Linked DNA regions of Homo sapiens: region 1 is linked to region 2. The links come from fine-mapping of genetic effects on gene expression. Tissue or cell type: tibial nerve. Region 2 holds a variant in brackets; the other region holds the start of a gene. All regions are shown on one strand. Distances are between the middles of the regions. Region 1 holds the start of FMN2 (formin 2). Region 2 has its middle 34 kb from the start of FMN2.

What was found. PIP is the estimated chance that this variant, and not a neighbour inherited with it, causes the effect.
Region 1: FMN2 starts here. The variant in region 2 is fine-mapped to the expression of FMN2 in tibial nerve (GTEx, PIP above 0.99).

The regions. Positions count from the first base shown.
Region 1 is chr1:240,084,772-240,100,985 of GRCh38, reverse strand. FMN2 (formin 2) reads right to left here and starts at 9,103. Exons shown (of 18, transcript NM_020066.5): 1 at 7,262-9,103. The coding sequence starts at 8,876.
Region 2 is chr1:240,049,395-240,065,608 of GRCh38, reverse strand. No RefSeq gene overlaps it. Among named protein-coding and RNA genes, the nearest start is that of FMN2, 34 kb to the left of the region's middle. The variant G/A (reference allele first, on the strand shown) is at 7,349.

The DNA.
Region 1 (16,214 bases), 35 kb before region 2:
TATGTGTCCACTCTATCACCAGGTACTACAACAAAGAACCCTTCTGCATGAAGTACAAAAAAAGACTCAACTGAGTAGTGCCTAAGCCTTTTTAAGCATAATTTTGAAACATAATATAGGCTTGATTTTCTCAAGAAAGTATTCCATTCCTCCTGAAAACAATAGGACTGTTTTCAGTCCATTGCAGCTCTAGGGTAACAGATAATAAAGCTTCCAGTGGGTTCCTGGTAGGTTGGAGCCTGACTGGATCACAGAATAGAGGCAGTAATTTTCCTATCCAATCAACACTTCCAAGTACATCTTTACAAAGGAAGAAGACATAAATTCTTCCCTCCTTCTCACCCATAGTGGAGCAGTAGGTATCAAAAGGATAATAAATCTCTAGTGTGGTTAGCATCTTATTATAGCATCCAGAAATAATTGTTACTCATTCTTAGAATTTTGATGTTATGACTACCTTGCTTTACTACCATTCCGAACTGACTGAGGTCATATTTTCCATATATTTTAAGATAAAAAAGCCTTAGAAAGTTTCTACTGTCACTAAAATGATATCTAATAACTATCAAGTCACAGGCAGTACATTTTTGTTTCTTCCTAATGGTTCCTTAATGCTAACTTTTATTAGCATTAGGTTAGTACTTAGAATACAAAACAGGAATGAACAGAGGAATACAATTTTCTCTATTCCCTTTACCTCTTCTTTCATTACAATAACATTTATATTTGGAAGGTCAGTTGCTGTAATGTCATTACTATTTTAACATTAACCTGCAGAAACAAGAATAGCTATTCTTCTATCAACATAAGTTCTATAAAGTATCATTGATTCAATCACACCTCATTGAAAATAATTAATTTTGACTGCCCAGAAAGGTTAGCAATTTTCCAGCTTCAATTCAACTAGTTTTAATTGCCAGTAGGAAGCCTGGATACTCAACTTGTCTATATCACTGCCAAAAATGGTGAATGAGCAAGTATTCATCAAGACCTCAGTACAGTCGGTGCTTTACACATATTGACAGGCACAGAGCAAGGCACGGAAGAGATATCTGTGGACAGATTAGTAGGAGAGGAGATGATGGATGGATGGAATCGGGTGAACAGGCAAGGAGGAAGGAAAGGCAGAGGGTGGCAAGAAAGAAGACCAGAAGAATCCCTAAATCCAAGAAGCATATATAATATGATCTAGACAGTAAAGTACAGAGAAAGTGAGATGACAGCCAGTAAGGTCTGGCTGGAAAAGATACAAAGAGGAAACGGAATTCAATCAGCACTTTTCAAATGCTAAAGCAAAAGAGACGAATCATGTATTCCAAGAGGGTAAAGCTGCAAGACAAAGGCACAAAGTCGGGAAAATGAAATGCATGTTCATAAAACAGTGTAAAGTAGAGCATTTATGAAGGAGACCGTGGGAAGGTAAAGCTGCAAAGTCAGGGGTTTGCAGCCAGATGCTGTGCAGAGCAGAAACACTGAGGGTGTCAGCTACCGCCTCCTCTTCCCACCCCTTCTTTGGAAAGCAGCACCCTCCCCCAAATCTTACAGCCACACCCCATCATATGCTTTTCTTATCCAACCCCCCACCACAGAATATCTGATAAGTGACAAAATGCTTACAATTCCAGAAAAAAAAAAGAAAAAATAATACATAAACAATTTGCAAAAAAAAACAAAACAAAACAAAACTGGGGCTCAACTAGTATCTGGTCAGTTCATATCCTGCTAAGTTTTGTATACAATTTCAGGGTTGTTTTAACAAATTTGGCTCTGATCACTTTGAACAATGACTTTTTTTTTAAGATAATAAATCCAGTCAGGAGAGCAAATAGCCCCAGTTAAGTGCCTCTCATGTACCAGGCAGAATTGTAGGGGCTTTATGTATGCTATTTCATTTCATCTTAATAGTATTAATTTGAAATTATTCTTCTACCTTCATAGATATGAGGAAAAATTACTGGAGACTCACTTAGCTAAACAGCAAAACTAGGATTGCAAATATACCTAGAATAAACGTAGTTAGAATAACTACTGCTACCTTCATCCAACTGTATATTTTCTGTATCTTTTCAGAAGAATCAGAAGGAAAAGCACTAAAAGTACCTGCTCCATTTCAAATACGCATGGCTTATATCCAAACGCCTAAAGCTCTTAAAACTAGGCCCATCCTCAACTCATAAAGCAGTCATTAAAACCCATCCCTGAAGCTACTGGTGCACTTGACTTCAATCCAAACCACAGGCCTAAAGAAACCATGAGAAAGGATGTTTCAGACCCATCTAAAATGATTGAAGATCAGTGTTCTGGTCCCCGCTTACATCGCCAAATTCTTCTCTGATATATGGAACCCAGTAAGGCAGTATTTAGGGGAAAGCATAGCATTCATATAAACCCCTTTCCTTTTATAATAAGACATTTTATACGTATCAGGCAGATTCTGACCTTCATTCGTCAGACATTAACTGGACATCTATACTCTGTCAGGGGCTCTGCTGGAAATCAAACTACTCCTGGCCTTAAAAAAATCCAATGTAGCAATTTACCAAGCCGTATGAGAAAATGTGTACTCCTAGAGTGGGTTCTTCCCTCTACTGATATAAAAATCAAGATAGGCCTCCTAGCACTTGGGGAGGCCAAGGCAGATAGAACACCTGAGGTCAGGAGTTCAAGACCAGCCTGGCCTACATGGTGAAATCCTGTCTCTACTAAAAATACAAAAATTAGCTGGGTGTGGTCATGGGCGCCTATAATCCCAGCTACTCTGGAAGCTGAGGCAGGAGAATTGCTTGAACCCAGTGGGCGGAGGTTGCAGTGAGCCAAGATCACGCCACTTCATTCCAGCCTTGGCGACAAGAGTGAAATCTGTCTCCAAAAAAAAAAAAAAAAAAAAATTCAAGATAACCTTTAGAAAGGCCAAAATCAGAGTTGCACAATCCAAGTTCTAGAGCCTATGCACTTTATTAATTAGCTAGTCCTCCAAAAGCTCAATGATCTACTTGGTTTCATCTTATACATATTAACAACAGATTTGGTTTTCTAAGGACATATCCTGGATGGGCCACTTACTAGCTTAATGCCCTTAGACAAGAAGTTACTTTACTGTCTGAGCCTGGGTTTTTTCATTCGAAAAATGAGGATAAACAGCTACACCTCAAGACTGTTGTTAAGGATTACAGATAGTTATGTAATGCACCAACAGAGTCTGGCACTTAGAAGTACAATAAGTGTAACCAATATCATAATTACAGGAATTGTAAGCCAATTGCAAATTGATCAGAAAAGTCAAATTACAAAAAAATTGAGGGACAGGAGCAAAGAGACTAAAGACAGCTATAGCCGGGCGCGGTGGCTCACGCCTGTAATCCCAGCACTTTGGGCGGCCGAGGCGGGCGGATCACGAGGTCAGGAGATCAAGACCATCCTGGCTAACACGGTGAAACCCCGTCTGTACTAAAAATACAAAAAATTAGCTGGGCATGGTGGTGGGCGCCTGTAGTCCCAGCTACTCAGGAGGCTGAGGCAGGAGAATGGCGTGAACTCAGGAGGCGGAGCTTGCAGTGAGCAGAAGTCGTGCCACTGCACTCCAGCCTGGGCAACAGAGCGAGACTCTGTCTCAAAAAAAAAAAAAAAAGGCAGCTATAACAATAAATAGCTGGCAGCAAGAAAACAATCAAGAAACTACACAGACACAAAAACTCAGAAACTACAGACTGAAGCCAACAGCCCACACACTTCAATAGCTGTTGAGGACATCACTAATGTTTTTATAAGATGTAACAATGATGTGCCTGAAGATGACATTAAGCCCTTTAAAACAGATTAAACTTTTATTCCATGTGTTTAAAAAAAAAGATAAGCACATAATTGACTTGGGAAAGATTCCTATCAAAAGCGATTTAGCATCACAAATTTAACACGTTGGATATCTAAACTTTAATTAACTGCAAAACTCCAGTACCAAGCTTCTGTTATACTTAATATGTAAAGGAACCTCCCGAATTTCAGACGCCATTTTTTCTACTAAACACTGAAAAAGATGTATTTCAAACACATTAATTATGAAATACTTAAATGCAATGGCCTAAGGCATCATCAGTTTCTTAATAGCTAAAACAAGATAAAGTTTGGTCTCCCTCATTGCTAAATGTTTTTAGATCTACCAAAGAGACACAGACATGTGCCATAGAAATCCCTTTTCACTTGTATTTTCTCCCTACATTTGGAAGGCGGTAAAAAGCGAAAAACATCTGTTTCTTCCTGTAATGCTGACAACCCTCATTCTATGGTTTAAAAATAAAAGATGCTTATGGAAGCTTATAGATATAATGATCACCTGCTTCAAAGGCAGCTGGCAATTAATTGATCCAAATACATGCAAAATTAAGGCCAAAAAGAAATTTCCCTAAGGACAATGCCAGTGTTCCCCAAGCCTCTGGTAATTTCCAAGACACCCGTAAAAAAATAGCAGAGGAGAGTAAAGAAGCAAACGTAGTGGCAGATGACATGAAGAGTTGACAGCTGAGACACAAGGGCCTGTGTCAATCTGGATTCATTTGACCACCATAAGAACAGTTTCCATGAGAGCTGCTTAGAGAAAATCTGGTTCACTCTGGCCAACAATCACCCTTCATCCAGCTCAAGGAAGGCCAGATGTTCAACCATTAAAGGAGGACACCTTATTAAAAACAGGAACTGGAAAATCTAATTAAAGAAAGGCCCTAAATCTGATCACATTTTTTATAAACAGTTTTTACTCTCTATATGGCCTTAAAACATTGTATATCCAAACAGAAATAATAATGACATTAGACTTGATTCATTGACTCAGTTTCTATTTCTGGATCTGCCTCTGAATGAATCACAGTGTGACCTTGAGAAAGTTATTTCACCTCTTTCTCTATCTACATTTTCCCACCAGTTACAAAGTTAGGTAAAACCTACTGATCCTCTTTTCCTGAACAATGCTGAGTGAATGACATAAACATACGGAAGCTGCTACACAAAAATATATTTGCTGATTACCAACCAGCTGTATCCAACCATCAAATACAAAATAGGTGATGTCCTTATAAAAACGACTAGCTCTGCAATTTTACTTTGCACAATTTAAAAAACAAATCACCTGGAGAGGTCAACAAAACCCAGGTGGTTCCTATACAGGACTCTTTTAAGAGTCCCAAATTTCAAATTTGGGAATACTTAGCAAATTAAACTAAAATGCAAGTTCCAAGAAGACACTTGTTTTTTTAAAGGAAAACAAACATTCAACCTATTTAGGGTCTTGTGATCTTCCAGGACTCTGTTCAATCCTCCTCTCTCAAGTCCTCTTCCCTCACCCCTTGCCACCAAGCAGATAAGCCACTGCATCCGTGATGTTCCCAGCAGTGATTTGCATGTCTATATCTATACAGATATTTCTGTGCACTGCACTTATGTCATGTCTCCTCCTCACTAGTCAGCGAGCCTTAGAAAGGCAAAATCATGATTTAATGGTCTATGTATCACCTACATCTAGAATACTGCCTAGCACAGTGTGCTACTATTTAGAATACTGCCTAGCACAATGTGGCTGCTCAATGTGTGTGTGTGTGTGTGTGTGTGTATGCACATATATGCTTACAAATGTATATACATATATATATTTGCTAAATGAATGAAATAAATAAATTTCCAAAGTCTTATGCTAGTAGGAATAGCTATCATTAATATTAATGATTGATAATCATTATGGTGAATTATTTTCACTTTTCAAAAACTATATACGTGAATGTCACTTAGATAAAGAGAAAATATGTGATTTCTTACCAACATTAAATTCACAAAAATTAATGCAAAAACTTTCCAATCTTCTTCTATCAAAAGTGATCTTTCTTTTTTATTTGTTTTGCATTTTGTTTTTGTTTTTTTACAATTTATCTAGTGGGTATAAAACTACAAACATTCTTTTTAACAATCTACACAATAAAGAGAAGGTGGAAAAGAAGAAAAATAAGAGTATGTGAAATGAATGGAAGAAGCTACTTTTAAGGGTAAGACCCTATAAGGGCAAAATAAAAGGTGGCCCACAGATGAAAATTAAAATGTGGTCAATAAAAGTAGCTACCCCAATATTACCAGCATTTAGTCAACTAAGAAGTCGCTGTCTGTGCCGAGAAATTTCATCTAAGCAATGTTTTACAGATAATGTATTTATTAAAATAATAGAACATAAGATTTTAAAATTTTCAGATTGCATTTGAAATGTTTAATCCTTCAAATATTTATCATAAACCTATCAGTAGTCATGTAACTTTTCATATTTTTCGATTCATTAAATTCTAACACTCTATTTCATTTAATAATTAAGAATAGAGGTTAGGTAAACATGTTGGGCTCTTAAGGTAAGGCCTTGGGCCCTGTAAGCCTGTAAGCTAGGATAAACTCATTGGACTGCTTGACACTGACCAGAGCAAACATACTCTGGCTGTGCTTTATGCCGCCCTGGGTATGAGTCTATAACATATGCTAGGGAGGGGAGGTACCAGTTGGACTAGACGTGCTTTTGACCTTTCCACCTTCACTGTCTCCAAACTACAGGCTGTTCTGGGCTGGACCATGAAACTGAATGAAAATTATCCCTACTATTCTATTTATTTATTAATTTTCTAATAGCATGTATCGGATTTTCTTGCAGCAGCAAACAGCAGTGAGTGACCGCTTAACTTCACTAAGCAGCGGAACCCAGACTGCTGCAAGATAGAAACTACATATCACATACATACCAAACGTGGACAAATACACACAGCTATGAGAGCGGTCAGAGACTGCCTTTGGATCGTACCGGAATAAATGATTTGTGCCTCCAAAACCGACTCTTGCGAAAGAACCATGAACAATTTTTTTTCTTTTTAATGCTGTGGTGATGAAAAATGAAAGAGAAGAATGATGGTTTAGCTAACGAGACGAAAAAGGAGTTTATCTCCCTGGCGTGACCCGAAACTTTGTGAATAGCAGGTATTTTGGTGAAATGGGCAGAGCAACTTAGGACAGACACAACTAAGTTGTTCCCTTTAAGATCTTGTAAGAACACAGAAAACCAACAAGTATGTCCAAGTCATTTCACCGTGGGGGGTGAGCTCGCTGGGCGGAAAAGGATTCCCTACGGAGAAGAGATGTGCCACTACCAGGTCACCGCCTTCCAGAGCCCAGGGAGGGCGGGTGGCAGGGGAAGGCCCTGACTGACAGGCGACTTGAGACCCGGAGGCCAGCAGCAGGGCGCGCTCACCTGTGAACACGTTCTGGAAGCCATCCGCAGCCGCGGGGGCCCCAGACGCCTTGGCGGCCAGTGCTGGGGACACCCCACCGCCGCTGTCACTCGCCACCCCGCGCTCCAGCAGGTGCGCGGAGCCTCCCACCCGGGGCGTGCGGGCGCCTAGCTCCTCCGTCCAGTCAGCCGAGCGGCTCAGGCCGGCCGCAAGGCCGCCGTCGGCCCGGTGCTTCTTGGCCGGGGCGGCTACGGAGGCCAGGGCAGTTCTGGACCCTCGGCTCAGGGAGGGTTCCGGCCGCCTCTTGATCCTGGGGCTCTGATTAGGGGACTGAGACGGGGAGTGATTGGGCGAGCTGAGCTGCCGGGTGGTGGTCTTGATGTAGCAGGGGGTGATGAGCGGGTAGGGCTTGAAACAGCGCTGGCTAGGCGCGGGGCTGCCGGGCAGGGAAGCGGCCGCGGGGGCGTCAGGTCCTTGCGCCTCCTCCTCCGGCTCTTCCCCCAGCCTCTGCGGGGCGTCCTCTCCCACCTCCGGGGCCCACTCCTCCCCCGGAGAGCCCCGGGGCGCATCCTCAAAAGCATCCTCCTCACCCTCCTCATCCGTGTCCCCAGCCCCTCGCACGGGGGCTCCGGCCGCTTCCTCCCCCGGCCCGGCCTCGGGAAATGGGAAAGCCGTGGAGGAGGGCGAGTCTTTGGCCGCGGGTTGCGCTGCCGGGAGACTGGGCGCCTCGGAGACCGGGAGGCCGCCGGGGGACGGCGGTTGCTGGGGCTCCCGGGGCTCGGCGGCCAGGCTCTCGGGCAGGTCGGAGAGCGCGGACAGCGCCTGCTCGGTGTCCGGACTGCCCGGGGCCTCCCCAGCCCCGCCGCTCGGCCCCAGCAGGAACCGGTCCAGGCCCAGGAAGGCCCCGGGCTGAGGGGAGACGGCAGTGGGGGGCGCTGCAGGCTCCTCGGCGCCCTGGAGCTGCTGCTGCTGCTGCTGTTGCTGGAGCTGGAGCTGGAGCTGCTGCTGCTGCTGCTGCTGCAGGCGGATCGCCTGCTGGATGTCTGAAAGCAAATCCTCTTGCTCCGTAGCCGAATGGAAGCTATAGATGTCCGTGTCCGAGCCCGAGCTGGTCCTTTGTCCATCCTGCGCCCCTGCTGCAGTTTCCACATCCTCGGCGATCGGCCGGCCCCCGACCCTAGCCTCGGCAGGCCCAGGACCCCCTGGACCGGTCACCTCAAAAGGGTCCGCACACTCGGTATCCGACAGGCCGGCCTCGTCCGCCGAGAGGCTGAGGTCTGGAGTCTTGGTGAGCAGGGAGTGAGCGCTGTCCAGCTCCCCGGTCTGCAGGGCCTGGGAATCCAGTACATCTTCGCGGGAGCCGCCGGCGCCTTTCCCCTTGGACAGATTCTTCCTGATCCGCAGGTTGGAAAACACCGAGGCTCTGGAGTCGGACTTGCTCTTCTTCTTGCCCGACTCCCCGCCGCCGCCGCCGCCCCCTCCCCCCTTGCCGTGCTTGCCTAGCGCCTTCTTGCCCCCGCTCCCCTTCTTTGTGGCTTCCACATCCCTGGGCCCCAGCGCATCCTCGGCGCCACCGCCGCCTTCGTGCAAAGCATCACCTGCGCTCCTCTTCAGCTTCCCATCCTGGTTCCCCATGGTGCAATCCCGCTGCTGCGCCGCCGCGCCGCGGGCACTCAGGCCATCCCGGCCCTCCTCGGCCCCAGGTCCGGGCCTAGGGAGTCTCCCGGGAGAGTCAGGCGGCGGCGGGGGGAGCCGCTGGGAGGGGAGGCCGACGCGCGCCCGGCTGGCCCCGCTCGCATCTGCCGCCGCTTTGCATAATGCGCGGCGGCTCCCGTGGCTGCCGTCGCTGCGGCTGCGGCTGCGGCTAGGGGCCGGCGGGGCGCGAACATGCTCAGTGCAGAGCGCGGCGCCCACCAATGGCTGCGCAGAACGCAGCTCGGGCCTGGCTCCCCGCCCGCCGCCGCCGCCCCCTCTGCCCCCGCGCGGCTCCTCGCTGAACCTGGGCGCGAAAAACGTTTCCTCTATCTCGGGGACTTTAATCTCCACCGTGCGAATCGAATGCATTGTCCCCGACCGAAGAGATCGTCAGCTGGAAGATGCACTCTGATCTTCAAAGCTGCTGGACCTGCCAAGAGAAAAGTTAAATAAAAAAGAAGAAATTTTTACACGGAGAAAAACTGAAGCCCAATTCCAGTTTAGAGGTGCCATCGGGTCACAGCCACATACACAACCCCCTGTCTGCCTCTGCATGGCTGTTCAATAAATATTTGTTGAATGAATGGATTGTTCTGTTTCTTGAATAATTGATCATCTAATTGAACACTGTTAATGTGCTTGAGCATATGGTTTAGGAGAGGTTACTACACATGGTGCTGCTTTTATGTTTCACACACAGACCCTGCTTCTCCAGGAGAGGACATTAGCTGTCATTTATAAAATTGGTTTGTGATTTTTTTGTTGTTGTTGACAGAAGGAGAGGTAGGAGAAGTAGAAAATACTGAGATTAGTGTTGATTAAAATGCTAGTCTCCAAATTCTATGTGTTTACCATATAAATTAAACAGCATTTGTATTCAAAAAGGGTGCATATACGATAACTCCCAGGAGGTCAAACTCATCAATATTAAACATGTCACTATTGTGGCTGCCTATAAAAAGGAAAAAGACAGAAAGGAAACACCCTTGGCACAAACACACAAAATCAGATGTTATGCTATAAACTACCACTTTCCCAAGCAAACCCTTCCAGGCAGACTTCGTCCTGTAAAAGTTTCTTAACGTTCTGGCCACAATATGGGGATAAACATTTTTCCTCATTGAATATTTTGTCATTGTTTTCATTATTTATTAAATTTAGTTACCTATTTTTTAAGAATAGTTTTTTTAAAAAAATATGGATATCTAAAGCTTTAAGCAGTAAACTGAGATTAAAGTGGCATTAATAAGTTTTACAAGTATTTAAGTAAAAGTCATTGATAACCACTTTGAAAATATGGAATAGACATCCAACTTATTAATATTTTCAAAATAACCCAGAGGAGGGAGAAAAGCTATATATTATACTGTGCAACTTAAATGTAGCAAGCAAATGTGTAGTCTTCCTTTGCATATTATGAACCAGCCTTTAAAATTCTTTTTTAAAAAAGGTTGGTCTTGTAAGTCTTTGGTTACTAACCTTTTTCAAACTATGTTTTTAAAAATAAATGTAATTTAAGGGCAGTTAGCCAGTTATCCTTAGGTGGCCCTTTCGAGTAAATGCTTTAGAGAAATCAACTTTAATAACTTTGCCAGGGTTATATCCCAGTCTCCAAGCAATTCCGGAGTACATGAAAAGCCTTTGTTTCACCTCTTTCACAAGACTGCTCTCTCCTTTTTTCTAGAATCTAGGCTCCTCAGAGGGCACAATTTGCCTGCAGCTATTAGAATTTTCTGCTTCTTTGAGTGCTGAGGTACTTTGAATCTTGATTTTTGCTCTTTCTTTAGCAGAACGTCTTTGATTCTGAACTACTGATTTCCTTATTGTTTTCTTCTGTGCTATATTCTAGACGTTCAGAAGACAAAAGAAGGGAAAGAAGGAGGGAGGGAAAGAATTGATGATTTTTTTTCACAGTGACAGTTGTGCAGCAGGTCACAGCTGACAAATCTCTATTGCATGCAAAGGCTCATTTGAAATTCACAAGTGTGGGTATCAAATACACATAGGTGCTCTTAACTCAAGGATAATTGAAGCATGAGCTCAGGCTCAGAGAGGCTAAGAGATTTGTCCAAGATCACATAGCAGCAGAAAGAATACTGGAACCTGCAAATTTAGACCACAATTTTTTTATAACATAAAACACTGCATAGTTTACTCTTGGGGGACCGGTAAGGATATCATAAAGGCAAACTACAAAGCTTTGCCAAAGGGTTCTTGTTATTTAATAGCTATTTAGTATTCCTAAGGATGCCTGAAACATGGCCTAACCTTAATTCCATTTGATCAGGTAAGAATATCATATCTGTGGTTGCAAAACTAGATTTAACAGATAATTAGAGATATTACCTCACGCCTGGCCACATCCTGGTAGCAAGACACAGACGAGAAACAGCAAAAGTGACCAGCCTCTATATTGATGTATCTAGAGTAATTCTAGTGTAATTATCAATAAAAGTCTTCAGTGTTAGCATTCCAAAATGGTCACAAAAACTATTTTTATAAAATAAAGTACCACCCATTTTCCCACAAAGGAAATTGGATATGGGCTTTAAAAATTCAATTAGTAAAAGTAGGTTAGAAAACTCTAAACAAATATTGAACTCTAGCTGAGAATATGTATGCTGATGTAGTTGGCTTAAGTGTACTGATTTTGGCAACTTATTCTAAACTGCATCAAAAAATAAGATACTTTAACAGATGCATGGACAGATATGTGATAAAACAAATATAATAAAATGTTAATTATATAATTTACATGGTAGATATATGGGTGTTCACTGGGAGCTGCCTTCAACTTTACTGTATGTTTGAAACTTTCTCTTTTTTTTGAGACGGTCTCATTCTGTCACAGACTGCTGTAATATGATCACAGCTCATGCAGCCTAGAGCTCCTGGGCTCAAGTGATCCTCCCACCTCAGCCTCCTGAATAGCCAGGACTACAGGCATTTACCACCATACCCAGCCAATTTTTCAATTTGTTTTGTGGAGATGAGGTTTCCCTTTGTTGCCCAGGCTGGGCTTAAACTCCTGGGCTCGGGAGATCCTCCTGCCTTTGCCTCCCAAATTGCTAGGATTATAGGCATAAGCTACTACACCTGGACTGTTTGAAACTTTTCATGCTCAAATGTTGAAGAAGAAAGTGGGTTACAAGAATAGATGCGTGGCTGGGCACGGTGGCTCACGCCTGTAATCCCAGCACTTTGGGAGGCCGAGGCGGGCGGATCACAAGGTCAGGAGATCGAGACCATCCTGGCTAACACGGTGAAACCCCGTCTCTACTAAAAATACAAAAAAAAAACTAGCCGGGCGTGGTGGCGGGCGCCTGTAGTCCCAGCTTCTCCGGAGGCTGCGGCAGGAGAATGGCATGAACCATGGAGGCAGAGCTTTCCAGTGAGCCAAGATCATGCCACTGCACTCCAGCCTGGGCGACAGAGCAAGACTCCATCTCAAAAAAAAAAAAAAGAATACATGCATTTCCCAGATTTTTTGAAATTAAATTATGTAATGGTTGATAGCAATTAATAAATACTAAATGGCCAGGCGTGGTGGCTCACACCTGTAATCCCAGCACTTTGGGAGGCCGAAGCGGGCAGATCACAAGGTCAGGAGATCGAGACCATCCTGGCTAACACGGTGAAACCCCGTCTCTACTAAAAGTACAAAAAATTAGCCTCGCGTGGTGGCGGGCACCTGTAGTCCCAGCTACTAGGGAGGCTGAGGCAGGAGAATCGCTTGAACCTGGGAAGCAGAGCTTGCAGTGAGCGGAGATCGCACCACTGTACTCCAACCTGGGTGACAGAGTGAGATTCTGTCTCAAAGAAATAAAAATAAAAAAGATACTAAATGAATCTTCCTCTCCTTCACGATTACCTGTCTGTCAGAATTCCATTTCATTTCCTTTTCTCTCTTCTTCCAGCTCTCTTCCTCCTCATTTACCCTCTTAATTGACTATAAGATACACTGAAATGTTTCTGATACTTGGTGTTTTGCTCTGTTTTGTTAGTTTTTATTTCTGCTTAACCTTGGTGGAATGCTTTAGAATCTCTAATAGAACAATTAGTTTGCATCTTAATTATCCAACTCATCCATTTCTCTAGCAGGTGAATGACACTTTTTTGCCCTAGTGTCAATTACTAATCTTTTGCCCTCCAAAATCCACCTCTCAGTCCTGACTTCACTCCAACACACTCGACTCCTGAACCTACTTCCTAGAGAACACCATGCCTCCAGTCAAATCCAATGTCTCTGCAACTGAACTCATATTTTCTTTCATATCTGTTCTTCTTTTGTTTTTTCTTTGAGTAAGAGCGCTACAATCCCTCCAGTTTCCCAAACCAGTGTTGTTGCTTACTCCTTCCTCTTCCCCAGTCCCTATAATTTACCAGTCACGAAGACTTCTCTATTCTTTTTTCGTAATGTCTCTTAAATGCATTCATGTGTCCCACCCCAAGTGCCACTTCTCTTGCCTCCTTCCCACCCCCACCTCCAACTCTCATCTGCTCCTTCCCATTATCACCAATGCTTCTGGACTGGGGTGATGATTTTGCTCCCCAGGGAACATATGACACTGTCTGGAGACATTTTTGGTTGTCACAGTGGGGTAGGGGGATAATGTTACTGGCATCAAGGATGCTGCTCAACAGCCTCCCCCGACCACCGCGCCCCATAAGCAAGAATGATTCAGCCCATAATATCAGTAATCCCGTGGTGCAGACACTTGCTTTAGCATGAAGACTCTCACAGCTGACAGTCAATAAATGTTTACTGAAGGAGTGAAATAAATAAGAAATTAAAATTACATTTCTCAGTTAACTGAATTAAATCAGGAACTTAAAGGGAGAACCAGTTAACTGAATTAAATCAGGAACTTAAAGGGAGAACCAGTTAACTGAATTAAATCAGGAACTTAAAGGGAGAACCTAATGGAACAAATCAGATTTTAAATAGTCTATCTACAGTACCAAATATCTTAAATAGAGAATTAACTCTTCTCTAACGCACTCTAAGTTCTAAAAACTACACAATCTATATAAATATTTCAATTCCCAACATACTTGGTAACATTATAAAAAGTCCTTGCTCATACCAGAGATTTCCTGGTCACTAGAATGGAATTCCCAGAGCTCATTTTGCAGTGATGATTATGTGTATGACAAACAATTAGTTATATAGCTTTCCATTTGTACCACCATTATTCATTTTATCACCAATGCAGAACTTAAAGTGTTTATACAACAGAGAAAAAGTGAAATATTCCTCTCCCCAAGCAATACAGAATGCACTACAAGTTTGTTTCTACACTGGAAAAAATTTAAAGGTAAAAAATTCTAGGTCACTTAAGTTCCTCCCTGCTACAAATGAAACATAAAAGCCATTGTCTCCTAACCTCTGGAAAACTCACTAGCTTCCTCTGAAAAATTCCCTCTTCATTATATAGGCATACTTTCGCATTCAACGCGTATTAGCCAAAACGTTTATGGATAATTGGCAACCGAGAAACAAAAGAAGACATAAAAATATTTATTTTGTTCTTATGTCACAGAGAAATTCCTATGAAGCTAAAGAATTCTGGTATTGAATTTCTAGACATATATACCCTTTCTAAGTGAAGACATACCATTTCTGCCACTGTGCCCGGCTTTGATTCTCACTTTTTTCTGTGCCCAAATATTTTTCTTATCTATTTTGCTTGCCTTAATCCTTCTCACCTCCTTTTCATTTATTTTTATTTTTATTTTTTGAGATGGAGTCTCACCCTGTCGCCCAGGCTGGAGTGCAGTGGCGTGATCTTGGCTCACTGCAACCTCTGCCTCCCAGATTCAAGCGATTCTCCTGCCCCAGCCTCCCGAGTAGCTGGGATTACAGGCACCCGCCACCACGCCCGGCTAATTTTTGTATTTTTAGTAGAGATGGGATTTTACCACGTTGGTCAGCCTGGTCTCAAACTCCTGACCTCCTCCTGACCTCGTGAGCCGCCTACCTCGGCCTCCCAAAGTGCTGGGATTACAGGCGTGAGCCACCGCGCCCTGCCTTTCACCTCCATTTTTATCATGAATTTCAGCTTCTCCAAGAGGCCTCCTTTAAAGTAGGTTATTTCCCTGTCTTAGAGCATCTGTCTTAACCTTCAAATTCTTGATCACAATTGTAATTATATGTTTGATTATTGACTTGTTCATTGTCTGTCTTGGCTCTTACCCATTACAATGCAAGTTCCCTGAGGGCGGGAAGCAAGTGTGCTTTATCACCACCATCACCTGCTGGCAAAGCGCTTAGAACTCAAATATTCTCAATGAATCACGAACAAAATCAGGAGTAAAACAAATAGGTCAGGCTTCAAGCAATGCTTTTGAAGCCCTCTTTCTATTTTTTTTTTTTTGAGACGGAGTCTCGTTCTGTCACCCAGACTGGAGTGCAGTGGCGCCATCTTGGCTCACTGCAACCTCTGCCTCCCGGGTTCATGCAATTCTCCTGCCTCAGCCTCCCGTGTAGCTGGGATTACAGGCACACACCACCACGCCTGGCTGATTTTTTTTTTTTGTATTTTTAGTAGAGACAGGGTTTCACTATATTGGCCACACTGGTCTCGAACTCCTGACCTCGTGATCCTCCCACCTTGGCCTCCCAAAGTGCTAGGAGCCACCCAGGCGTGAGCCACCGTGCCCGGCCTCTAAGCCCTCTTTCAAGTTATTTTGTTTTGTTTTGTTTTGGAGACGGAGTTTCACTCTGTCACCGAGGCTGGAGTGAAGTGGCATGATCTCGGCTCACTGCAAGCTCTGCCCGCTGGGTTCAAGTGATTCTCCTGCCTCAGCCTCCTGAATAGCTGGGATTATAGGCACCCCCTCCATCACACTTGGCTAGCTTTTGTATTTATTTTTAGTAGAGATGGTATTTCATCATTTTGGCTAGGCTGGTCTCGAACTCCTGACCTCGGGTGATCCACCTGCCTCGGCCTCCCAAAGTGCTGAGATTACAGGTGTGAGCCACTGTGCTTGGCCTCAGGTTCTTTAAATATTGAAGGGAGTTGGCACTTTGTGGGAGTTAAGATAACATATCTTAGAGACTAGCGGGCTGCTTTGTACCAAGGGCTTGAGCTGTACCCACCCACCCACTTCCATCCCTACAGCTGAGATTGATTAGTTGGACGCTCTCTAAGCCATTGTTGCCTGAGGCCCATAAAACTATTGCCTCGATGAAGGCAAGTTAGCCGACCCTGAGCCTTTCTCCCCAGGAATCCCGGAATCAACAACTCTAGGATGTCTAAAGACAGGAAATTTTAA
Region 2 (16,214 bases):
ATATTAATTTCTTATTGCTGCTGTAAGTCACCACACAACTGTATTACCTTACAGTTCTGGAGGTCAGAAGACCTAAAATCAAGGGGTCAACAAGACTGTGTTCTTTCTTGGGGCTCTAGGGAAGAACTGATTTCCTTACCGTTTGTGTATTCCAAAGGCCACCTGCATTCCTTGCTTGTATCACCTTTCTTCCTTCACTCTGCCCACTGCTTCCATCTTCAGATCTCCTCTAACTCTGAGTTTCCTTTCCATTGTTCTCTAATAAAGACCCTTCTGATTATATCGAGTCTACCTGGACTATCCAAGATAAACTTCCCACCTCAAAATCCTTAAATTTTAAACATTTCTATAAAAGTCCCTTTTGTCATGTGAGGCAACAGGTTCACAGATTCTAGGGGTTAGGATATGGATATCTTTGAAGGTAATTTTTCTGTCTACCACACATACTGTGTGATTAAGCTTAGCTCAATTTCTCAGAAGCGCTTTTCAGAACAGTAGCAGCAGAATGACATGCCCTTATTCATTCATTCTTTCATGCAATCATTGTATTTTTAGAGTGGCAGGGCCTAAATGCTGTCCAACAATTAATCTGTGTTCTCTTTGTCATCACTTTCTTCCATTCTCACCACCCCAAATTCCACCCTCTTCAACTTGCCCACTCCACTATTTCTACTTTTAGTCTCCTACTTGGCCTCCTACTTCACAGAGCAATTACAAACCATCAGACGAGAATGTCCTCAACTTCTTGACATTTTCTCTATTCTCATTTACTTATTCAGCAAATATATATTCAGTGTCAAACTATGGACAAAGCACTGCCCTAGGTTTTCAGATAAAATTGTCATAGGTCTCATGGAGTTGACATTCTACTTGAGAAGAGGTCAAAAGAGAAATAAGGAGGGAAGGAGGGAGGAAGAGAAGGGGAAATATCAGACAGTGAAAAACGCCATGCTGAGAATATGTAATAATGGACTAGGTAGCTATAAAGAGAGTGTGGGCCAGCATGGTGGCTCATGTCTGTAATCCTAGCACTTTGGGAGGCCAAGGCACTTGAGCCCAGGAATTTGAGGAGCCCAGGAGTTCAAGACCAAAATTTATAATTTTTAAAAAATAAAAAAATTAGCTGGTCATGGTGGCATGCACCTGTGGTTCCAACTACATGGGAGGCTGAGGCAGTAGGATCACTTGAGCCCAGGAGGTCAAGGCTGCAATGAGTCGTGTTTGTGTCACTGTACTCCAGCCTAGGTAAGAGAGCAAGACCCTGCCTCAAGAAAATAACCAAAAAAAACAAAAGAAACAACAACAACAAAAAGGGCTCCTGGGAAGGTTCATCAGGAATTATTTTCTTGATCCTAAACTTCCATAGATATTATTTTCTAAAATTAATCTGAGAATATGCTTCAAGGTCAAAATATTCTCCTTTTCTTTCCTACTCCCCTCCCCTCCCACTTTCATAATTGCTCTTTTCTTTCTTTAGAAAAGAAAGCATCATTCTCACCCAACCTAAATCTTAATATGTTGCCTTGCCTTCAGGGTATAACACCTCTGGTGTGCCAAATAAGAGACAATTATAAATATTGGTGGTAGTGTTGGCAATTGTATGTGGAAATAAACAAAGAATACCCAAATAAGAACAAACAGAAGGTATTGATTCAGAGCCTGCCCTGACAAGGGACTCAGCCACCATCACTTCCCTCTGGCAGAGACTCAAAGGTAAGCAGAGGAGTGGGAAAGCTTTATACTGGAAAAAAAAAAAAAAAAAAAAAAAAAAAAAGAAGGCTTCCAGAGTGCTCTGACTGGGGAACTGGGGAGGCTGATGACATGGGGCATCTTACGTGCCTGGTTTCAGGAGCATACAGGGTCCTTCAAAGTTCATGGAAAATGTGTACTATGAAAAAACTATGGATTTCAAAAATTGCTTTCACCAAAATAAACTCATAGTAACTTTTTGTAACATGTCTGAACGGGGGCTGGTTGGACACACTAAGGATAAGGCATCAGTTTGAAAAGAGCCTCTATCAGAGCCACATGAATTCTGCTAAAATTGAAGCAAGAGCAAACATTAAGTGTTGAGTGGGAAAACTGGGAAAAGTGTTGAGTGGGAAAAACTGATGCTTTATGAAAAGTTTACGGGGACAATGCACCAAAGAAATCAGCAGTTTACAAATGGATAACTCATTTTAAGAAGCAAGGAGGCGGCCGGGCGTGGTGGCTCACACCTGTAATCCCAGCGCTTTGGGAGGCTGAGCTGGGTGGATCACAGGGTCAAAAGATCAAGACCAGCCTGGCCAACATGGTGAAACCCCGTCTCTACTAAAAATACAAAAATTAACTGTGTGTGGTGACATGCGCCTGTAGTCCCAGCTACTTGGGAGGCTGAGGCAGGAGAATCCCTTGAACCCGGGAGGCGGAGGTTGCAGCGAGCTGAGATGGTGCCACTGCACTCCAGCCTGGTGACAGAGCGAGACTCCGTCTCAAAAAAAGAAAAAAAAAAGAAGAAGCGAGGAGACAACATCGGAGCTGAAGGCCACAGCAGCAGACCATCCACATCAGTTTGTGAGGAAAGAATTTATCTTGTTCATGCCCTGATGGTTGACATCAGAAAAAAATAGCCAAGACCATGGACATCTCAATTGGTTCAGCTTCACAATTCTGACGGAAAATTAAATTTGAGCAAACTTTTCACTCAACGTTGCCGAAGCCTTTGTGCCCAGATCAGCTGCAGACAAGAACAGAGCTTTCAACTGAAACGTTAAACAAGTGAAATCAAGATCCTAAAGCATCTCCTCAAAGAATTGTAACAGGAGATGAAACACGGCTTTACCGATATGATCCTGAAGACAAGGCACCATCAAAGCAATGGATATCCAGCAGTGGTAGTGACCCAGTCAAAGCAAAAGCAGGGGCTGGGAGTGGTGGCTCACGCCTATAGTCCCAGCTACTAGGAAGGCCAAGGTGGGAAGATTGCTTGAGCCCAGGAGCTAAAGACCAGCCTGGGCAACGTAATGAGACCCTGTCTCTGTTATATAATTTCTTAAAAAATAAAATAAATAAAAAAGCAAAACCAGTCAAGCACAAAGGTCATGGCAACAGTTTTTTGGGATGCTCCAGGCATTTTGCTTATTGACTTCATGGAGGTCCAAAGAATGATAACATCTGCTTATTATAAGCATGTTTTGAGAAAGTTAGCCAAAGCTTTAGCAGAAAAATTCCCAAGAAAGCTTCACCAGAGAGTCCTTCTCCACCATGACGATGCCAATGCTCACTTCTTCTCATCAAACAAGGGCAATTTTGCCACAGTTTCAATGGGAAATCTTTAGACATCCACCTTCCAGTCCTGATTTGGCTCCCTCTGACTTCTTTATGTTTGCTAATTTTAAAAACATATTTAAAGGGCATTCATTCTTCTTCAGTTAATAATGTAACAAAGATTGCATTGATACGGTTAAACTTCTAGGACCCTTAGTTCTTTAGGGATGGACTAAATGGTTGGTATCATCACTTACAAATGTGTCTTAAACTTGATGAAACATACATTGAGAAATACAATTTATATATTTTTTAAATCTTTTATTTCAATTTTCCATGAACTTTCTGAAGTCCTCTTGTGTTTAGCTTTCTCTGGTTGGTCCTGAGTTGGATGGGGTCAAGGAGAGAGGGAATAGGGAGGGAAGCTGGCAGTCATTGACCATTCAACAGCCCTGAATGTTCTGAGTCAATGCTACAGAGGTTGTGGTTTGGTTGACATCCTGGACTGGTTGCTTCAGAGGTTGTGGGTCAGTTGTCATCCAGGGTCTGGCCATTGTCTGTTTGTTTATTCTGTCTCTCATGAAAACTTTTGTCTCTAAGGCTCTGCTCACCTTTAGACGTTCATTTCAGCATAGCACAGTTCCTCTTTCCCCACCTCCAATCCACACCGCCATTAGAAACTCCAAATATACTGACGGATTTATTTACTGTTTTTTTGTTTGTTTGTTTGTTTTTAATGTGCTGTCTACTTCTTCTCGTCTCTGGGGTTGCCATTAAAGCTGTCTGGAAAACTTTTCTGCTCCCCTCCGCCACCCTTGCATTCCGTGCTAAGTTCTACCCAACTTCAGATTGCAGGTTAGAAGTCACTTCATCCAAGAGCTCATCCGGGACCCTTCAAATTTCTCGAATATGCTCTCAGAGCCCCTAACCTTGGCTTCAATGATCACATTTATCACATGTTGTGGCTCAGAAACCAATACCCAACCAATACCCCAAAATATAGCACTTTGACATGTTGAACTGAAGAAGAAGTCTCAAAGTCTATCTGATCTTCCCTGTTCCCCTCTGGCCCCAGGTCTGTCTCTCAGTCCTCTGTCTCTCCCAAAGGATGAGGTTGTTCTCCTTATCCACCTAAAGTCTGGACCTCTCGTCCCTTCCCTGAGTTTTCGTCACTGAACTCATTGCTGGAAGAATGACTGAAGTCTGTCAACACATCTGGACACATTTTCGTCACGAACCATTGTCTGCTCTGCGGGCCCCACAGACAATGTTCCAGACCATTGTATGTGATTCAAGCCCATTAAATTCTCCGAAAAAATCACTTACTACCCCATTAAAATCATCCATACTTCCCCATCTCCCTTTCACCTAAGAAGAAGGGTAAATAAGCATCTATCGCCACTGCATAATGGGGATTTCCCTCTTGTGGCATGCTAATAAATTTGTATACCATTTCTCTCTCTCTGTTTTTTTTTTTTTTTTTTTTTTTTTGAGACAGGGTCTCACTCTATTGCCCAGGCTGGAGTGCAATGGCACAATCACAGTTCACTGTAGCCTTGGCCTCCAGGGCCTGGGTGATCCTCCCACCTCAGCCACTTGAGTAGCTGGGACCACAGGCATGCACCACCATGTCCAGCTAAATTTTTTTTTTTTTTTTTGAGACTGAGTCTCACTCTGTCACCCAGGCTGGAGTGCAGTGGCACGATCTCAGCACACTGCAACCTCTGCTTCCCAGGTTCAAGCAATTCTCCTGCCTTAGCCTCCTGAGTAGCTGGGATTACAGGCACGTGCCACCATGCCCAGCTACTTTTTGTATATTTTGTAAAGACAGGGTTTCGCCATGTTGGTCAGGCTGGTCTCCAACTCCTGACCTCGTGATCCACCTGCCTTGGCCTCCAAAGTGCTGGAATTACAGGCGTGAGCCGCCACACCCAGCCTGCCCAGCTAAATTTTGTAACTTTTTTTTTGTAGAGATGGGGTCTTGCCATGTTGTCCAGGCTGGTATTACAGGCATGAGCCACCACGCCTGGCCTCTCCTATTAATTCGACTTTTGTCAGCTGATTTTCAGTGAACCTTCAGAGGGCAAAAAGGAAGTATTATGGTGGCCTTTACACATATTTCAAAGTGTTTGCCTATTTGCTTGCCTGTCTCTCTCCTCTAGATTTCATACCTCTGAGGATAGGGCAGTGTCTTATTTACTATTATATCTCTAGGACCCCACGCAGTGCCTGGCGCATAGTGGGTATGCCTTAAATGAATTGATATATCTCCCATTTGCATTGTACTAATGGTGAACTGACAAGAAAAGCTAATATATTCTTATGGCCCCTACCTCCAGCAATTCTATATAAGAAGGTAGCAGGAAAACAAATACACAGAGAGAGAAAAGACGATATGGTTGACCCCAAGAAAGTTCAGTGGCCAAAAATCTAAGTGCAATAGAAGTTTAGAGAGAGAGGATGTCCCGCTTGATGGAATGGTTGGAGGAGACTGAATGAGGAGCTTAAACCTCCACATTTTCTCCTCACTACTTTTACAGTTCAGGACAAAAGGCACTTTTTGAGCCCTTGGGCAAGGCAGGGAACAATTTATTTAGTGTCGGTCTTTTCCCAGACTGGGAGCCATCATTCCCAAGAGGAGTTTGGCAGTCTGTCCTCTGACCTTCATTTACAAGGAGTCCAAAGCTTATAATTACTATTGATTGCTGTTATTTTTGCCTTTAGTTTATATCTGATCACAATGAACAAAGACAGATACAGAATTTCAGATTTTGGAAACTGTATAGAAGCCTGCAACAAGTGGATGACAAAGAGGTCCTCCAAAAGCTAGTTTGCTAGTTGCTCTAGTTGAAAAATATATAATAGTGTCTGCTTTCAAAAAGATTTAAAGACATACAATTTCTTTCAAGTCTTTTTTTTTTCTTTTGAGACAGAATCTTGCTCTGTCACCCAGGCTGGAGTGCAGTGGCGCGATCTTTGTTCACTGCAACCTCCGCCTACCAGGTTCGAGTGATTCTCCTGCCTCAGCCTCCCGAGTAGCTGGGACTACAGGCACGGGCCACCACGCCCGGCTAATTTTTGTATTTGTAGTAGAGACGGGGCTTTACCATGTTGGTCAGGCTGGTCTCAAACTCCTGACCTCAGGCGATCCACCCACCTTGGCCTCCCAAAGTGCTGGGATTACAGGCGTGAGCCACCGTGCCTGGACCCTCAAGTCTCATATACCATACAAAGCGAAACAACTGAAGGAGTCTAAGAATCAGGAAGCGTTATGCTTAAACACAGTTTTAAAAAGACTTTCAGAATGTTGACCTGGCACTTTTATAAAAAAGTTCAAATTTCCTGATAGTAGCGCTTACTGTTACTATTTATTTATTTATTTTTGAGACAAAGTCTGGCTCAGGCTGGAGTTCAGTGGAGTGATCAGCAGTCATTCCACCTTGGCCTCTCAAGTAGCTGGGACTACAGGCATGTGCCACCATGCCCAGCTAATTTTTAATGTGTTTGTGTGTGTGTGTGTGTGTGTGTGTGTGTGTGGAGAAGGGGTCTCACTATGATGCCCAGGCTGATCTTAAACTCCTGGGCTCAAGCAATCCTCCTGCCTTGGCCTCCCAAAGCGTTGGAATTACAGGCGTGAGCCACTGCACCCGGCAAGTAGTGCTTATGAAAATACCATAACAAAGATGTAATTTCCCACATGCGAGGAACAATTTTGGTTCTGCTATCACTGTTCCCTTTGACCATCAGGCAAGAGTATGACTCCCGCTCATGTTGGCCTTATTTACTTCAAAGTAAATGTTAGGTGTGTTTATTTAACCTATATTGCTGTGAATTCCCTGACTATTCCTGTTCAAAAAAGGAATTCAGAAAATAATAAGGTTTCAGATGAAATCTTTCAAGGAAGAAAAGAGAATTGCTGTACATGAGCAGAAACAGCTAAGAGTATAGCATGCCGACACAAATAGGAACGCTTACAAGACTAGAAAGCCTTCTGGGGAAATGATTTGGGAGACTGTGGTAAGGAGGTTTATGAATGTTCGTGGGAGGCAGCTCCGAGCATAAAGGTCAATAAAAAACAAGGGATGGAGTTTGGGAGTGG[G/A]TGAGGAAGACAAAGAGCGCAGTCAGAAGATGGGCTTGGACAGAGTAGCCGGCGAGCTGCATGTAGGAGGGTAGAGGGTGAGAAATGCACTCAGATGCCAATAGAATCAGCTCTATATGACGCAGGAGATGCCAAGAAAAGAATGCAAATAAGAATGTAGCAAAACATGGGTGAAATTGTTGGAGCAGGTGGTCTCTCGCTAAAGAGGAAGGGGTAGGGGGAAGCAGTGGGAGTGAAGTGGGGAATATGTCACCATACTTACAATGCACAAAAATGAAATGTGTACATTGATTTTGTAAGATCAAGGCTGTGTATTCTTTCTTCTAAGAGACACTGTCACCGAGGCTAGAGTGCAATGTCACAGCTCACTGCAGCCTTGAGCTCTTGGGTTCAAGCAATCTTCCTGCCTCAGCCTCCTGAGTAGGTAGAACTATAGGCACATGCTACCACACCTGGCTAACGATTTGAGTTTTTGTAAAAACAAGTGTCTTGCTTATTGCCCAGGCTGGTCTTGAACTCCTAGCCTCAAGTGATCCCCTGGCCTTGACCTCCCAAAGCGCTGTCATTACGGGCATGAGCCACTGCTTCTTGCCAATGCTAAAGGTGTTTAAGAAGAGCAGTCAATTAATTTATAATGTTGAAGAAATATCACAAAGTTTGCAAATGAGAAGCACAAGGATTATTTTTTAATGCCAGTAATAAGTTGGATGAGATTGAAGGCGTTACTAAAGACTGAAAAACCATATCAAGAGAGAAGAAGAATTGTATACAAATAAATAGAGGAAATATGGTAGCATATGCTATGTAGTAATTTTGGAATATATGAAATATATTAGTTGAACTGAAACGGTTAAAATTATAATTATTTTGCATATCTGTGCAGCACACATTTAGGTTTGACAAATACAACATGGGAATATTAAATATGCTTTGGTATCAAAATACAAAGAAGTCCATTATAGTTAACTAAATATGTCTTGCTAAAAATTATAATGCAAATGAGCGTTCTTCATCGCTTTGACTGCAGGATCGGATATATATATAGATAATTCATATTCAAAATCTCAAATGCAGCCACCTGAGTGGATAAGAAGAGAAGTAAATATTAGTTCTCCTCTCAATTTATTTGCTTATGAAGAACGAGGCTGAAAATATTGAATACATTTTTATTTTTCTACTGTGCTTTTAAAAGGGAGTTAGTTTAAGAGCCTAAGGGGTTGAAAAAAATATATTGACTGGAAACAAATAGAGATATTTTTTCCTGGAAAACGTATGTCATAATTTATAAAACAAGTATTGGGTTTTTTTGTTTGTTTGTTTTACAATGCTGTGAAAGCTTACATTCAGCTGATAGTGTTTAATAAGTGTCGTTTTCAGACGTTATTATAGTGTGCTGATAATCTTGGCAAAATTCATGAGAACTGTTTAAATGAAACAAATGACAGAGATGATTGTGAGTTCTTGAAAACACGTTTTTGGGAGGGAGCTAAGTGTTTAAATCTCTTCAGTGAGCTCTTCTCCTAGCAGCTTGGCAGTTGCTACCTTGGATGTGTTAGAGACAGATGCTGAAGCCAACTCATGGTTAATGACCTTATTCAAGGTCACTGAATAAATCGGTTTCAGTCCTAGGGCTAGACTTCTAACCACAGAGCCATTATGTGCAGCCTGTCTCCTGAGCTGTGTTGCCATTAATTGACCCTTTAAATACGTTGGGTTTTCAAATCTCATTTAAAAATTCAACGTGATGAAACCATAAAAATGGACTCTCCCTCTCTCTCCCTCTCTCTTTCTCTCTCTGTCTCTCTTTCTCTCTCTCTCACACACACACACACACATAATTTATCTACTTTGCAGCATTGTTTAGGGCTGAGTGAAAATCCAGAAGCTTTCAGATCCAGACAAATCCAGCTTATAGAAATGTGTTGTTTGGCCAACAGAATGTACTCACTTTGGTTTTAAATTAGCTGTCAACATTTAGAAATTGGGAGTTTGGTGTAGTTGGCTTCCTGACTTCTTTTTAACAATTTAAAGATCTGGGGACATTGGTTTGTCTTTTCAAATGGTAAAAATCCCCTGCAGCTGGGTAGCACAAACCCTTTTAAACGGGCATAATTCATCACCATCTCCACTTGGGGGCCTCTTCATAATTTACATTAAGTGTCCAGCCTCTGTAGGCATGTGATCTGGGAGGGACCTAATTATTTGACCAGATTAGAAACATTCAATAGTTTCCAGGCCATTTTCCAGGGTATGCCAGTCAAAGCCTTCATAATAGATCTTCAATTTATCTTTCCATCTTACCTTTCTGCATTCCCCACCACCATCTTTCTGTTTCCATTCCTGAATATAAAAGTACACTTGAGTATAAAGTATACTGTCTTTATCTAAGGTACTCACTGTGTCCTAAGTACAATGCATACATGCTGGTATTCCTGATTTTATGTGTACTCCTGGCTTCCCTTGCTTAAAAAGCCTTCCCTATCCCTACACCCCAGGGCAACCTCCTGTGGAATTTACTATCAGCTCTAATATTCCTTCCTAAATGTAGACTTGAAAATTATCTCCCATCTCCATCTTCTCTGGGGTTCCCTACTTTCTTCTCTTTGATCATCTATCACAGCACTTAGCAACTTGCCTTATGGTAATTTGGCTACTTATCCATCCCACACTGTGTTATTTGCAGCTCTGGCCTCAGGATCTGACTTTCCATTTTCTCACTTTCCTACAGGAGCAAAGTTGTGGCCAGGACCATTGACAGTCCAGTAGTTCGTTCTGGGCTTAGGTAGAGGTACCCTGCAGTTAGCTGGGGTGGTCCGAAGAGGCTTTTGCTGAGCAGACTCTTGCTTGAAGATAGAGGTAATTGCTTGAAGGGAATGTATACACCCTTTCTGATTCTTGATCTTCCTTAATGTGGAGATAGGGGATGAAGACAGGAGTATAGTAGAGTTGCTCCGTATAAGACCTGATCACTTTCCAAAAGGGGCAGGACCACCAGGCAGCAAAACTGTATCATCTGTATCATTTTAATTTAAAAAGGAAAGCAGAGTTCTGGTTCAAGAGCCATCAAAACTGCTTCTGGGCAATATCACAATGTGTCGATCATAAGGAGTTACAGGCCCTGCTTGTAGCCTTTGCTGAACCCAAAACCCTAATCAAAATGATGTGTTTTGGTTTCCAGCCAAGTCTTGCCTTTGAATCTTTACTGAAATAGATTAAGGGAAATTGAGATGTCATATAGACAAGGTCCTGGTCAATGAGCTCAGCTATAAATCAAACCAAAGCACTACAGATAGAAGCCAGGTGTATAACCCATATCTCAAAGAAAATCAACCTCCTTCCCTGCACCCCCTCCCAACCTCGAGGAACTTATATGGTCCTTCATATACTGCCCATTTTGGGCACTGTGCCTTGATGTTTCTGTTATCCAAAAGGGGTTCCGATTCAGACCCCAAGGGGTGGTTTTTGAACCTCACGCAAGAAAGAATTCTGGGCGAGTCCACAGAGCAAAGTGAAAGAAAGTTTACTAGGAAAGTAAAGGAATAAAGAATCGCTTCTCCATAGGCAGAGCAGTGGCATGGGCGGCTTGAGTGAATATACTTATAGTTATTTATTGATGATATGCTTATGCTAAACAAGGGTTGGATTATTCATGAGTTTTCCGGGAAAGGGCAGGCAATTCCTGGAACTGAGAGTTCCTCCTCCTTTTAGACCATATAGGGTAACTTCTGGACGTTGCCATGACATTTGTAAATAGTCATGGCACTGGTGGGAGTGTCTTTGAGCATGCTGATGCATTATAATTAGTGTATAATGAGCAATGAGGATGATCAGAGGTCACTTTTATTGCCGTCTTGGCTTTGGTGGGTTTTGGCTGGCTTCTTTACTGTGTCTTGTTTTATCAGCAGGGCTTTTGTGACCTGTATCTTGTGCTGACCTATCTCATCCTGTGACTAAGAATGCCTCTGGGAATGCAGCGCAGGAGGCCTCAGCCTTATTTTCCCCAGCCCCTATTCAAGATGGAGTTGCTCTAGTTCAAACGCCCCTGACGTTTCCATGATTTCACTGTTTCTGAGGAAGCATTCACTGCCAAGTAACACTGCGTGTCGCCCTCAGCTCTTAAGATCTCTTAGTACACAATACTATCTTTAGCTCTTGGAATATTGACCAAATGCAACATTCATTAGAAGGATGTTCCAGATCAGAAACCCAAGTGGTAATTGGATGGTAATTCCAATGGTTAATTGTGATGGTAATTCCATCACACTAAAAGTACAACTGTGTCCTTTCCATTGTAATTAAGATTCATAAGTAACGATCTTCTGAAAGCAGTATATTAGTTTCAGCATATAATTTTAGGATGCTTCCTATAAAAAGTATCTGAGTGTAATCCCAGCTACTCAGGAGGCTGAGGCGGGAGAATCGCTTGAACCTGGGAGGCGGAGGTTGCAGTGAGCCGAGATCATGCCATTGCACTCCAGCCCAGGCAACAAGAGTGAAACTTCATCTCAAAAAAAAAAAAAAAGGATCAGAGTACATTATTGAACGTTATTGAAAGTAGTTAAAACTCACATTTTTAAAAGTGAAGATAAGGCATCCTATGGTTGTTTAAATCAGAAGTGCCATATTGGTATCAGGGACTTGGGTGTATTCTATATTCTAATTTTGCTGTCATTTGACTTGTCCCTTCCTGGTTTCAAGACAGTTGTTACACTTCAGGAATCAGACAAAGACAATGTCTTACAAAACAAAGGTTAATTATATAAGATCTTTTTTTTTTTTTTTTAAACTAGGGAGAAAACCCAATCTAATAAGTCTCCCAGCAATCTCCCACCAGGTCACATGGGCCACAGTTAGATCTCACTCTTAGCACAAACTGGAAGAAGGAATGGAAATAGAATACACAGCATTTTCAGTCCTATACTTAGCCAGAATGGAGGAGGGGATGTCGGAGTGATGCAGGGAAAGGAGGAAATGGCTATTTTGAAGGCAATCAACAATGTCTACCCATCCTCCAAGAACGCAAAGAATCAGCGCAAAGAATAATTGGTCATTCAGTGTCTTTCAATGCACTACCTATGTTCTGAATTTTTTTGGAGCGGGGAGGGGGATGGAGTCTTGCTCTGTGGCCCAGGCTGGAGAGCAGTGGCTTGATCTGGGCTCACTGCAACCTCCGCCTCCTGGATTCAAGTGATTCTCCTGCCTCAGCCTCCCCGCCCAAGTAACTGGGACTACAGGTATGTGCCGCCATGCCTAGCTAATTTTTTTGTGGTGTGTATTTTTAGTAGAGATGGGGTTTCACCATGTTGGCCAAGCTGGTCTCAAACTCCTGACCTCAAGTGATCCACCCGCCTCCACCTCCGTCTCCCATGGTGCTGGGATTACAAGCATGAGACACCACGTCCTGCCCGATGTTTCTAATATTAAAGGCCTTTCACTAACGTCATTTACATTAAGTGCTTGTTTCTTACCTACTCATATTCTGATCTGATTTCTGTCTAACTTTAAACACTAGACACCATACCCTGACTTCAATCTTGCTATTGTCTACTTCTATTTGATGTTTGAACTAATTACTCGAATGTTTCACTCCCAACTCTTTCTCATGGACTTTCAGTTTAGCCTTAGATTTCTGACTTCTGTACTCCAGATTACTTTGATGGGTGACTTAGTTTGCTGGGACCCCACAGTTAGCATTGGCTGCCTGACAAGAGCAGATGGATTTCACATGCCCTCCCATCCCCAACAGTGTCAGCACAGAGCATTTGTACCAAGACACCAGGTGGAAAACACCATGGAAAACTTGGGACCATCCTCTTTTCTGTTTCCACCTGTGATAAGAATTACAAAGATACTATTTAGGGACAAAAGGATTCTAAATATTATAAGAAAAGAAACTTACAATAATAGAAAAGCAGACAATTGTTTCCCTACCCCTACACTTAAAACAACACTTCGGGAGGCTGAGGCGGGTTGGGTCACCTCAGGTCAGGAGTTCGAGACCAGCCTGGCCAACACAGTGAAACCCCGTCTCTACTAAAAATACAAAAATTAGCCGGGAGTGGTGGCACACGCTTGTAGTCCCAGCTACTCAGGAAGCTGAGGAAGGAGAATCGCTTGAACCTGGAAAGCGAAGGTTGCCATTAGCTGAGATCCCACCACTGCACTCCAGCCTGGGAAACAGAGCGAGACTCCATCTCAAGAAAAAACAAACAAACAAACAAAAAAAACCAAGAAGGTTCCACATATTCTGTGACTCCATTTCTATAAAACGTACAGAATAGGGAAATCCACACAGCAGAAAGTAGATGGGTGGTTGCCAGGGTCTGGGAGAGGTTGTGGGGAAATGGGGAGTGACGGCTAATGTGTACAGGTTTATTCTGGGGTGATAAAAATGTTCTAAAATTGGCCGGGTATGGTGACTCATGCCTGTAAGCCTAGCACTTTGGGAGGCTGAGGCAGGTGGATCACCTGAGGTCAGGAGTTGGAGACCAACATGATGAAACCCCGTCTCTACTAAATACAAAAAATTAGCTGAGCGTGGTGGTGCACACCTGTAATCCCAGCTACTTGGGAGGCTGAGGCAGGAGAATCGCTTGAACCCGGGAGGCAGAGGTTGCAGTGAGCCAAGATTGCACCATTGCACTCCAGCCTGGGCAACAAGAGCGAAATTCTGTCTCAAAAAAAAAAAAAAGTTCTAAAATTGGTTGTGGTGGTGGTTGCACAACTTTATGAATATAATAAAAGCTATTGAATTGTACACTTTAAATGGGTGAATTATATAGTATATAAGTTATATCTCGCTAAACCTGTTTTTTTTAAAAAGAACTTAAGATTTTGAAAAGTGTTATTCATTAGATTCCAGTGGTGTGATTGCAGCCTCGTAATCCACTTCACCAGCTTGCAAATGCTTGACACATTACTAAAGAAAAGATGAGGATTTGCCGATACTCTGGTGCTATAGAAGTATTTCTATTCTTCAGTGTTCAAACCAAAAACTGTGAATCCGCTGGATGAGTAGGAAAAGCAGAGGACATAATGTTCTTCAGTTAGACACTGTCTTTTTTTTTTTTTTTTTAAATTGAGACGGAATCTTGCTCTATTGCCCAGGCTGGAGTGCAGTGGTGCCATCTTGGTTCATTGCAACCTCTGCTGCCCGGGTTCATGCGATCCTTGTGTCTCAGCTTCCTGAGTAGCTGTGAGTACAGGTATGCGACAGCATGCCTGGCTAATTTTTTTGTATTATTAGTAGAGATGGAGTTTTGTCATGTTGGCCAGGCTGGTCTGGAACTCCTGACCTCAGGTGATCCTCCCACCTCGGCCTCCCAAAGTGCTGGGATTACAGGTGTGAGTCACTGCACCTGGCCTAGACACTGTCTTTAACAGAAATGTACATGCCACTGTCCCCCAGACTTTGGTCGTTATTGATGTGATTGCTGGAACATAATGCTTCAAATTATCCCTCAATTCCTGGACTAAATCAATGGTTTTACATGATTATCACTGAAACGTAATCCATTAAGTGCTTAATTTACATCATATTAACAATCTCAGTACACTGGGAGTTTCTGGTTTGTGACAGATCAGGAAAAATATCACTTCAACCAATGCCTGTGAAACATTTTTCCTTGAGTGCAAATGAATGTTTCAGTCTAGTTTTTGTATGTGAACATCATGGTAACCAACTTCAGGAAAAAGTTTCTATCCTTTTTTTCTAACAGATAATACTATTTTCAACATATAAAAGGAATGTATTATTTCTAGGGATACTTCAGGTCCCAGCAGCTTCTGAGTCTTCTCAACAATTACACTAGGTAAGTACCCTTGGATATCCACATTTGCAGCTTCAAGTTTTACAGATTAAATCGTTCTGATAGTTTTAATGCTTTGTGCACTAGGATGCAAAGATGCTAATTTTTCACTGCATAGAGTAGCTTCTTTAATTTTTTATGTTCTCTATTACATTATAAGAATTGCATATTATTTATTTATTCTATGCATTGGCCCCATTCTTCTTTTCTTTGCCCGCTCAGGTTTTCTGTTTTGCCTCCTGGTATTCCTTCGGCTGCATTCACCTCAGTTTCCCTTGCTAACTCTCCTTTGCTTAAGGTTACTTTTTTTTTCCTTTTTTTAGACAGTATCTTGCTTTGTTGCCAAGAGTGAAGAGCAGTAGTGCTATCATGGCTTACTGCAGCCTCAAACTCCTGGGCTCAAGCAATCCTCCCATCTCAGCCTCCCAAGTAGCTGGGACTACAGCTACTGATTTTTAAATTTTTTGTAGAGATGGGATCTCTCTATTTTGCCCAGGCTAGTCTCCAACTCCTGCCTTGGCAATCAGGCAATCCTCCTGCCTTGGCCTCCCAAAGTGCTGGGATTACAGGTGTGAGCCACCATGCCCAGCCCACTTAGTTTTAAATACTGCTGTTATATGTCATTTCATCCATAGCTTCTAACTCTGTACACTCTCTATTGAGGAAAGCTGGGCTTTTTGTTTCTGTACATTCTCCATGCCACCTAGCACTGGTAATAACAATATTAATCACAATTCACATTTTTGGAGAACACTGTTGAGTTTCATGAGCCTATATCATTTAATTGCCAGGCTTGTTAGGCAGATATTGTACTGTTATGTATCTTATACAGAATGAAACGGGGTTTAGCAAGAATAAGTAATATCACCAGGATCACATGATTAGCAAGTGTTGGGCCTGGGCAATCAGACTCCAGAGCTTAGACTGAACCACTGCACTGTCTTTTTCCTGATAACCAGGCAATAGGCTTCACTTCTTAGCCTCAAAGATGAATGGAGGCTTGGCATATCAGAATATTTGCATATCCCATTTTTTAAAAATAGAGGCAGGGCGTCGCT